Regions from separate parts of the Homo sapiens genome. Here region 2 is linked to region 1. Evidence: fine-mapped expression QTL. A gene starts in region 1. The other region holds a variant in brackets. All regions are shown on one strand. Distances are between the middles of the regions.

Region 1 (5,505 bases):
GGCCAGTGGGCCGCAAATGCTTGGAAGCTACCATGATGCTTCACAGATGATGATCATTTTGGTAACTCAAAATATAAATGCGGGCTTGGTGCGGTGACCCATGCCTGTAATCCCAGCACTCTGGGAGGCTTGAGCCCAGGACTATAAGACCAGACCAGCCTGGGCAACATAGGGAAACCCTGTCTCTATATACAGTAGTTCGCCTGGAGCCACAGCTACCTGGGAGGCTGAGTTTGGGAGGATCACCTGAGCCCAGGAGATAGAGCCTACAGTGAGCTGTGATTGTGCCACTGTATTCCAGCCTGGGTAACAGAGTGAGACCCCGTCTCAAAAAAGCAAAATACAAAATGTAATGCGACAAAGCTCCTGGTGAGATGCTGCTGCTACTCCGCCATTTATGCTAAAAACAAAAAACTAAAACCTAAAAAACTTGAAAAGGTGGTTTGTAATGGGGATGGGAGGGTTACTCTTGGCCTGGTTTAAACCAAGCATCTAGCAGTGCCCGGGCCTATGCTGTCCCTAGCAGCACCTGGAGAATTCAAATGTCACAACAGCTGACCACGGAGGGGACTCTAGAGGGGAAGTGTCCTGTGCACCAGTCACACCGCGGCTGTGCTGAGGGGTTCGGGGGCCAATTCTGCGCTTCTTGGGTTCTTACACCACAGTTTGATCTTCACGTTCATTATTCAAAATCTTCCAGCAAGGATTGGAAATCAACAAGACAACTGAATGAAACTCAGGTCTGTTTTCCTCAAAGTGTGGTCCTGGGTTCAGGTGCTCACATCGGAATTACATAATTGTGCAAAACTTGGACTGCCCTGTGTCCCTAGAGACCTCGAGCTTGTTTTTGTCTCGGACCAAGATGGCCTCATTTCCATACTGTGAGTACCACATGCTTCGGCTCCTGCTCAGGTACGTCCCAGGTGGCACCGACTCCAACTTCTGCTGTTGCTGCTGCCAGATGAGCAAGGAGGTGTCCCTGTACCGGAGGCGGGCGTAGCCTTCAGACAAGGCCTTCTCTGCCAGGGGGACACGGCCACTCATCCCCTCCCCCGTCCCGCTGGACTCCTGGGAACCCTGCTGTTCTGAGACGGCCCACGCGCACTAAATTAACGGACAGCTTTCCCAGCTTTGGGGCTTAAGGATCCCTCGTTTAACTGAATGGTAGAAATTAGGAATTCCGCCCATTTGCAGGCAACGTCCTCAGGAGGGTTGTGTGGTGAGGAAATGAGGCGGCCTCACCATTCTGAAGACACCTGAGACCCATTCAGGGGACCGCACACAGGTCAGAGCGGCGCCCGGCCACAGCTCTTCCGGGTGCAGCTGTGTGGAATTGACAGGGACGAGGCGTCACACCCTGGGGGGTGATTCTGCCACCATGGCCTGGACCACTGAGCTTGAAGAGATGGATCCAGTGCCCTGAGGAAGGGACATGGTGGCCCCAGACGCAAGCTGGAAGGAGCTCCGGTGGCACGCCCCGCACGCATCTGTCCGGGCCAGCTTTCAGGGCAACGGCTGTTCTGACCCACCCTGGGGATCCAGCCCCAGCGTTTGTTCAGGTCTCGTCTCTCCCCAAAGGTGCTGCTGCAAAGGAACGAACGTGCTGTCAGGAGAGGGGAAGTCAAGCGCCCCGGCAGCGGCGGCAGTCTGCAGCGCAGCATCAAGTCTCTGGGGGTCAGCGGCCTAGATCGAGCTACTTACGTCCCGTGGGGCAGCCTGGGAGCTGGGTGGAGAGTGAGACGGGCGCCCAGTGCCAGCTTTTTCAGTCACTGGGAGGTGCTGGGGAGGCTGCTTGTTGGGGCTTCAGGGTCTCCATCTGTGAAACAGGAGCCAGCGGCGCTTGAAAGGGCGCGGGTTCCCGGAGACGCCGCCAGGCGTCAGCCCCGGGACCGGAAGGGGCCCCCAGGGCCGCCTTGCTGCTCCGAGCATCCAGCTCCCGTGAGGCCCCTGGACCCAAACAAAAACGATGTCAGGAGAAAACAAACAGGGAAGCATCGCAACCCACTCCCGAACGCCTTCCCAGCTGCGCAGCGTCAGGGACCTCCCCTCCTGGGATGCCTGCGCTAGGTCAGCCTCAGCTTCCCGGGCCCCCATCGCGCGTCCCCGCCACCTGCGCGCACCCTGGGGTCCCCGTCGCGTGGCCCGCGGCCCCCATCCCCGCGCCCCAGACCCCGCGCGCTCTGGGTCGCCCCATCCTCCAGCCCCCTATCGTCTGCCCGCATCCCCGGGTCCCCCACGTCGCCCGCCCCAGTCACCGCTCGTCGCGGGCCTCGGAGATGCGGGCAGCGGCGCGACGCACTGCGGGGCTCCCAGGGCGGGGCCGGCGGCCGCTGGGCCGTGTCTCCATGGCAGCGCCGCAGGCCTGGCGAGCCGAGCGCAGAGGCTGGGCAGGCGTGTGCGACGAGCCCAAGCCATCGATCGCTCCGCGAGGAGGGGCTGGGCCCGCCCCGAATAGGAACTGGAAGAGGAGGAGGAGGGGCTGGAGGAGGAGGGGCTGGAGGAGGAGGGGCTGGAGGAGGAGGAGGGAGGAGGAGGAGGAGCTGGGAGAGGAGGGGCTGGGAGAGGAGAAAGGGCTGGATGAGGAGGAGGGGCTGGAGGAGGAGGAGGGGCTGGGAGAGGAGGAGCTGAACGAGAAGGAGGAGCAGAAGGAGGAGTGGAGGAGAAGGAGGAGCAGGAGGAGGAGCTGGGGGAGGAGGAGGAGCTGAGAGAGGAGGAGGAGATGGAGGAGGAGGGGCTGGATGGTGAGGGGCTGGGAAAGGAGGAGGGGCTGGGAGCGGAGGTGGGAGGAGGGGCTGGCAGAGGAGAAGGGGCTGAGGAGGTACTGGAAAAGAAAGAGGAGCAGGAGCTGGAGGAAGACGTGGAGGAGGAGCTGGAGGAGGATGAAGAGAAGGAGTGGGACGCCCACAACCCTGTTAGTAAGACACTGCCGGACTGTATGGTCTTATCATCTTGGTTTTCGTATTTCTGCTTGTGTGGTTACTTTTGCCACTGCTGTTACTGCTTTTATTAGTATTCTTACTCTCAGTAATTGATACAATTATTTTTAATTAATTAAATGTCCGGGCTTACTATCTCAAAAATAGGTCTTGAATTTCTCCATCTCATCCAACCAAGCCAGGCCTCTATACTGCTCATTTGGACTCCTCAACAGCCCCATGAAAGCAAGGTCTATTTCCTTTTCTCACTCCACCTCCAATCATACTCCAATAGCACTCTTTTAGTATCTACCCTTTTCCCCTAATTTTATGGTTTTCTCCAATGCCAATTAAGAAAACTAGCATAATGGAACCTGGTGTGGTGGCTCACCTCTGAGTCCCACCTACTTGGGAGGCTGAGGCAGGAGGATCCCTTGAGCCAGGAGTTCGAGGCTGCAGTGAGCCATAATCATGCCACTGCACTTCAGCTGGGACGAAACAGCAAAACCCCATCTCTAAAAAAAAAGAAAATAAGCATAACAGACATCCAAGGAAGATGCTTAGTGTGAGCACTAAGCCCACAGCTGTGGAACGCACATTCTTTTTTTTTTTTTTTTTGAAAGGGAATCTCACTCTGTCACCCAGGGTGGAGTGTGGTGGCACGATCTCAGCTCACTGCAACCTCCGCCCCCCAGGTTCAAGCGATTCTCCTGCCTCAGCCTCCTGAGTAGCTGGGACTACAGGCGCCGGCAACCACGCCCAGCTAATTTTTGTATTTTTAGTAGAGACAGGGTTTCACCATATTGGCCAGGCTGGTCTCGAACTCCTGACCTTGTGATCCGCCTGCCTCGCACTTTCTTCACAAGTACCTACACAGGACGTTTAGCAAAACTGATCACATGCTGGACCATAAATCAGTTTCAACAAATTTGAAAACGTTTAAATCTTACATGATCTCCCAGTCTTCCGACCTGGGAAAAGACAGCAACCGAAGTTATACTGCTTTCAAGAGACACAAGAACAGGCCTGTATTCAAAGACCCATTTAACACTTTTACCTCTATCTGGCTGGGTGCGGTTTTCACGCCTGTAATCCCAGCACTTTGGGAGGCCTAGGCGGTCACATCACTTGAGGTCAGGAGTTCGAGACCAGCCTAGCCAACATGATGAAACCCTGTCTCTACCAAAAATATAAAAAATTAGCCCAGTGTGGTGGCAGGCGCCTGTAATCCCAGCTACTCAGGAGGCTGAGGCAGGAGAATCTCTTGAACCCAGGAGGCGGAGGTTGCAGTGAGCTGAGATTGCACCATTGCACTCCAGCTTGGGTGACAGAGTGAGACCCCATCTCAAAAAAAAAAAAAAAAAATTGCCTCTAAGCTAATATAATTTGTTCTATGCCTTGAACTAAATAATTTGAATATTTAGTTACCTGTAAGCTTCCTTTTCCTGTCGTTGTCAAAACCAAATAGGACTTATATTTCTGTTCGAAACATTTACTTATGTTTTGTTTTCCAGAGTCAAAAAGCTGTTTTTCCTTTTAAGCTATTTTATAGCTACAACAATTAAGTAAAAAATGAAGATTACCTCTCTTTTTCTACCTGATATCTCCAGAATCTGAAAATGATTTAAAATCCCATTGGCTCCAATCTGATTTGATATCAAACACCCTCCCTCTAGGCCCAGGGACAATTGCAGAAGAGGTAAACGCATGAGATTGTAAGGGCTGGTTTCGAGGGATAAAATTTGTTCAGACCCTCTGAATCAAAGATGGTTCACAAATACCTAAATAGCTGATAGCTCAATACATAAAACTTAGAGATAAGTCAATTTTGTAACCTCACGTTTTGGATTTTGGTTTTTGCCTCTTATGTTGCACAAAAGGTTGTTTTTTGTTGTTGTTGTTGTTTGTTTTATTTTGATTTTTTTGAGATGGAATCTCGCTCTGTCGCCCAGACCGGAGTACAATGGTGCAATCTCAGCTCACTGCAACCTCCGCCTCCCAGGTTCAAGTGATTCTCCTGCCTCAGCCTCCCGAGTAGCTAGGGTTACAGGCATGTGCCACCATGCCTGGCTCATTTTGTATTTTTAGTGGAGACAGGGTTTCACTATGTTGATCAGGCTGGTCTCAAACTCCTGACCTCGTGATCCACCCGCCTCAGACTCCCAAAGTGCTAGGATTACAGGCATAAGCCACCGCACCTGGCTGCACAAAAGGTTTTTAAGGGTGAATGAGTGCCTGCCCATCTCCTTTCCTATCTGTCCTAAAACATTTAATTAGCTGTCTTTCAGTCTTTTGGCTCTAAGTCTCTTGGCCATAGGGATCCCACCAAGGGACAAGATGGACCCAGTGCAGGTAGCACACAGCCCCAGCAACGATATAGGACAAAATAAAAGTTTGGTCATCAATGCCATCTCTGGCAAATCTTGGCCAAAAGAAGGGAATATAAACTAAAAATAAAATCCTAAACTCCTCACTGACTGAACGGATCCCCTCTTGGCCAAGGGGACCTCAGAAAAAACTTAAAACTGAGTTCCCAGCCACGATGGGATAGGAGAGCCCACTCATGTCGTTATAACTCCTCCCTTTGGTG
Region 2 (5,000 bases), 220 kb after region 1:
AAGGCATGGCCCGGCCTAGTGACCAGAGCTGCAGACTCCAAGCTCCTTGCCCAGCTCTTCCACTCTTGTGCATCTGAGTCCTCTCTCCTGCTGGCCTGCTGAGCTCCTAGAGTGCTGAGGATCAGCCTTCACCTCCCCTACCCCACCTGGGCCTCCTGTAGGCACCTGGTCAACCTGGCCCTGGGACATTTCCCTAGCACTTCTGAGTCTTCATTGCCAACTGCCAGTGTTTACTGGGGAGAAAAACCAACCAGGGTGGCCGTGATGCCTCCAGCCGGGAGACCTGGGCTGCCCCCTTGGGCCCAGGCTGGCCTTGCTCCGGCCGGGCCCCCTCCTGCTGCCCCACCCTCTGGTCCTTGGCCAGCGGCCTTTCTGCACGCACATCTGTACACCCTGGCCCAGGTCCTTCCAGTTCCCTCGAAGCCCTGCCCATGCCCTGGCTTCTGAGAATCCTGGCTCTGAGGTCAGCCTCTGCCAGGGCCCTGCTGGCCTCTGTATCCCTCCATGGCTAAATGCTGCTGCAGAAAGCAGGAGGGCTCCTGAGGTCTGTCTCCACCCAGCCTGGGGCCGCCACCCGGGCGTGTTTGCTTGGGCGATGCTCTCTGTGCCACGTGGTGACCAAGGAGCGGTGCAGCAGCTGGGCCCAGAGGATGCCTGCAGAGCGGCTGGCTGCCCTGACCAGGAGCCACTCGGGGAGCAGGAGAGGAGAGGGTGGCCGGGCCTCCAGAGCAGGGTCAGCAGCCTCACACGTCCTCATGTTCACTTCACATCCCGCCTGAGGCTGGAGCTGGAGGACTCTCGTCCACAGCCTGCCCCACCACCGGCACTCCTCGGGGTGGAGAGCATCCCTTTTGATGACAGTTTTGGGGTCATGCTCAGGAGCACAAGCTCAGTGTTTGAGTGCTGGGTGGGGACCATGGCCCTGTCCATCCAGAGAGTCCCCACGGGTGATGGCCCTGCCTCCTGGGTCTCAGCCCCTCACCGCAAGCCACAACCCCAACGCCCACCTCAGGGCAGCCATAGTGCCCAAGTCCACCCTGTGTGTGAGTGGCCACCACAGGACTCTGCCCCCGTCACGCTGGGAGCGTTAGAATCTTTACCCCCGCACCTTCCTGCCCTGCACTCACCTCCAAAGAATGGAGCCCGATGTGGCCAGAACACAGGCTACCCCAGTAAGCATGGAGCACCCCAGTGCCTGCCTCGGAGCTGCCCTGGGACCCTCCCCTGGCAGCTGTGACCTTGAGAGGGTGGGCAACAGCAGCAGGGTGGCAGAGGTGGACTTCTCTCTTCCAGAACTACATGAGCCCCCTGCGGCTGGTGCTGAGCCCGGCGGACATGGCAGCTGTCTTCATTAACCTGGAGGTAAGGGTCCCGGCCCCCATCGCTCATGCCAGGCTCGGGGCCCTAACTCGGCACTGGCCACACATGTCCTGCTGTCCTCAGGGCCTTGGAGAGCTGCACCCCTGTGGCTCCGTGGTGGCTCGTGCTGGCCGGAAGGAGGAGCCCCCACCGCTCTCTCCAGGGTCTTTGGATTTAGGAGCCAGGGTAGCAGGTTTCTGGGCTCCGCTTGTCTGCGGGTGAGGGCAGCACTGACGTGCGTGGCTGGAGGCACGGATGACGCTGAGAATGTAAATGAAGTTTTTGTCAGCGGCCAGAGAGAAACGTGTCCCTCCACCCCTTTGAGCGGACCCCCTCGCCTGCCCTGCGGGTGTCTGAACTCAGTCATAGAAAGGCAGTTCCCCATGCAAAGAGTCACCTAGACGTGGTTAGCAGAGCAGGGCGCTGGCACCAGGCTCCGGCAGCCGTGCATGGGTGGGCTTCCTCCGGGGACATGCTGCTCCTGGCCCTTCCTCCTGGCCTGGCGGCCACAGGTGCCAGCAGCCCGTGCGGTGGCTGTGTCCTGCCTCCCTGGCCGTCTCATTAGCTGCAAGGGTGAGCTCTGGTCACGCTGCCCTGGATGAGGCTGGCTTGGACCCCAGAGCTTCCTATAGTCTGTGCCTCTGACCTAGAGTTCATCTGTCCTTGAGCTGTGGCCAGGATGGAGGAGCACAGACAGAAAGAGGCCTGGGGCGGGGATGGGGGTCCCGGGGTGGGGATGGGGGTCCCGGGGTGTGGCCTGAGCACAGGAGTACTGCGCTGTGCCGCCCCACGCTGTCTGCAGAGCCCGCCCCGAGTCGGCCGCTGCGTGTCTGATGGGCTGGTGCGGGCTGTGGGCGGCTTCCCTCCCACACGTACTGGCTCTTCTGTTGCACCATCGCCATAGAACCTTCTACCTGAATCACACCCTGGCATGCACAGAGATGTGGGGTGCAGGCCCAGCACCCGGGCCCCTCCCCTCCTTGAGGGAACTACAGAACAACAAGGGCACTTTAAGGGCGGCGCTCCCGTCTAGCCTTGGGTGGGCCTGGCCAGGCACTCACGGCTGGTTTTCAACCCAGGACCTGATCAAGGTGCATCACAGCTTCCTGAGGGCCATCGACGTGTCCGTGATGGTGGGGGGCAGCACGCTGGCCAAGGTCTTCCTCGATTTCAAGGAAAGGTGAGTGGCTGCCGGCTCCTGGGGCTCCTTGGCCCCTCCCTGTCTGCGGGAGAGTTTACACAAGTGGAACTCTTGTGTAAGTGGGACTCTTGGGGTGTCCCGAGGCAGGGGCCGCCCCCTCTGGACCCCGTCCTCCCTTGTTGAGGATGCCACCCACCCCGAGCCGCAGCCTGGTTGATGGAGAGGGTGTGGAGCCTCCTGTCCTGTGGGAGCTCGGCAGGGGCAGGATTGGGGTTCTGGATGTTTCTAACTGGCTGTGAGAGGTGTGGCCATCCAAGTGGCTCGGCTGTCCCAGCGGAGATCTCGGGCCCCCACTTCTCCCTTCTGCACCCTTGTGGCCGGTTCTTTAAAGTTAGGATGTGGACAAGGATGAAA[A/G]GAGGTGGCACGTGGAGCTTAAATGATGCCCAGGCTGTCGGAGGCTGGGGAGGTGGCGTTTCTGGGGCTTAGATGACGCCCAGGCTGCCGGAGGCTGGGGAGGTGGCATTTCTGGAGCTTAGACGATGCCCAGGCTGTTGGAGGTTGGGGAGGCGGCGTTTCTGGGGGTTAGACAATGCCCAGGCTGTCGGAGGCTGGGGAGATGGCGTTTCTGGGGGTTAGACAATGCCCAGGCTGTCAGAGGCTGGGGAGATGGCGTTTCCAGCCACGGAAGTCTCGAGAGAGCCCCATCAGGGGACGGTGCCAAGCTCTCTGTCCCTCGGGGATCCTTTGGAGGAGCCCGAAGGGGTCTATGCTAATGCTTCCTGAACTTGGCTGCTCACTAGAGCCACTGGGGAGCTTGTTACAAATACCATGTCCGGGGTCCACTCTTGGAAGGGTCTGGGTCTGCTCTGGGGCCTGGGGAGTTGTAGAAGACCCCACAGGTGCATCTTACCACGCGGCCCTGAGCCTAGGCATTGGGCGCCCGGGTCCATCTCTCCCTCATCTCTAGGAGGGTCCCCTGCATCACCCGCCAGGTGGCCGTCAGCACAGCTCACACCCCTCCCTGTCCAGGCAGCCGGGGACAGGCCCAGGGCTGGATTCTCAGGCACGTTGCCTGGGAAGCCCTGCAGGTGCTTCCCTGTGTGCTCTGTAGCTTCAGGAAAGGCGCTCCCCCCTTCCCTGTGAGGAGGGTCCTGGAGCCTGCTCTCCAGGGGCCATGGCTTGGAGGGTTCCCGGAGACACGAGGGAGCAGGCAGTGCTTGTGGTCCAGTGGCAGAGGGGACCAGGAGAGCTGACGAGGCCCAGCAGGTGTGAGCACACTGGCCAGCCCCAGAGGGTTAAGAGTGGGCAGGGATCGGGGGAGGACAGCTCCCTAACCTGCCCTCAGCAAGGTGTTCCCTTCATCTGTGGGTGAGCTGATAGTGCCCGGCTGGCAGGTCACACTGGCTGTCGCCCCAGTCCTCAGCAGGTGTGGGGTACAGTGGTCCTTTTCAGCGCCTTGTTCATGCTGTCCCTCGGCCAGGAAGGGAGGGAGCCACGGATGAGGCGTGGTTTGCTTCGAGGTCCGTCAAAGGCTGAAGCCCTGGAGGAGGAATGGCTGGCTGTGTGGTAGAGTGACAGGGTGGATAACCTGTCCTCTCCCAGGAGCCTCCCTCCACAGTCAGGCTGCCCGGCGACACCCCTGGCCCTGTCCCACCAGCAGGACCTTGCATGGGTGGTTCCCGCTGAGGAACAGCGGGCATCTCTGCCTTGGAGCGCCACTGCAGTGCGGGCAGCACGTCCAGTCACAGGCCCAGCCCAAGAGCTCTGTGGACGGGCAGCTCCGTCCCTGGCAGCGAGGCGTGTGGCGAGATCCGTCAGTCGGGGTCTGTTTGGGGAAGGGGCTGTCAGCGTTTCATCAGAGCTCATCACCAAATCATCGTGGTTCTGTCCCAGCATCCAGCTTTTTTGCCCCTTTCCTCTCATTTCGGATTCGGCCCCAAGGTCCTGGTTCTTGCTTGCTGGCTGAGTCCTGAAGCTTTTATAGGGTGCCTGCTCTGTATGGCTCCTGAGCTCTGGACTGAGGACACGCAGTGAACAGAGCTACTGGCCTCTCGCTGGGTGGGATGGATGAGAACCAAGACAAGATAGAGAAGCTCCGGGGGGAGCTGCGGCGTTGCTGGAGAGCCCAGGAGACCCGTGAGGGCTGCACAGCGGAGGACGTGTCCCCCTGAGCACAGTCCTGCAGGGGTGGGGCGAGGCGGGTTGGGGAGCAGAAGCTTAGGGGAAGGTGAGAGGCATGAGCCCAGTAGAAAAGGGGCGGTTCTCCAGGGAAGGGCTGGAGGGTCCTGCAGGGGCTTCCAGGCCAAAGGAAGGATTTAGAATTTTTCTTTTATTAAGCGAGGGCACGAGGAAGCTGCTGAAGGGCTTTGTGACAGGGTCCTGGCAGCTCGTCGGGGGTGAAGGGTGGAGTAGCATTCCGGTGTGGCATGATCGGCACTGAGTGGCAGGAGACAGTCACCTCCCTCTTTTTGAGGTTATACTTTCATGAATGCAGCCTTCG

The links.
Region 2: its variant is fine-mapped to the expression of BRD3OS in ovary (GTEx, PIP above 0.99).

The regions. Positions count from the first base shown.
Region 1 is chr9:134,022,287-134,027,791 of GRCh38, reverse strand. BRD3OS (BRD3 opposite strand) reads right to left here and starts at 2,311. Exons shown (of 3, transcript NM_001355256.2): 1 at 2,256-2,311; 2 at 1,702-1,947; 3 at 1-1,584. The coding sequence starts at 1,044. The coding sequence ends at 790. RefSeq lists silencers at 2,018-2,437, 2,748-2,877.
Region 2 is chr9:133,803,620-133,808,619 of GRCh38, reverse strand. VAV2 (vav guanine nucleotide exchange factor 2) reads left to right here. Exons shown (of 30, transcript NM_001134398.2): 8 at 1,294-1,362; 9 at 2,439-2,539. Among named protein-coding and RNA genes, the nearest start is that of SARDH, 68 kb to the right of the region's middle. RefSeq lists an enhancer at 4,714-5,000. The variant A/G (reference allele first, on the strand shown) is at 2,915.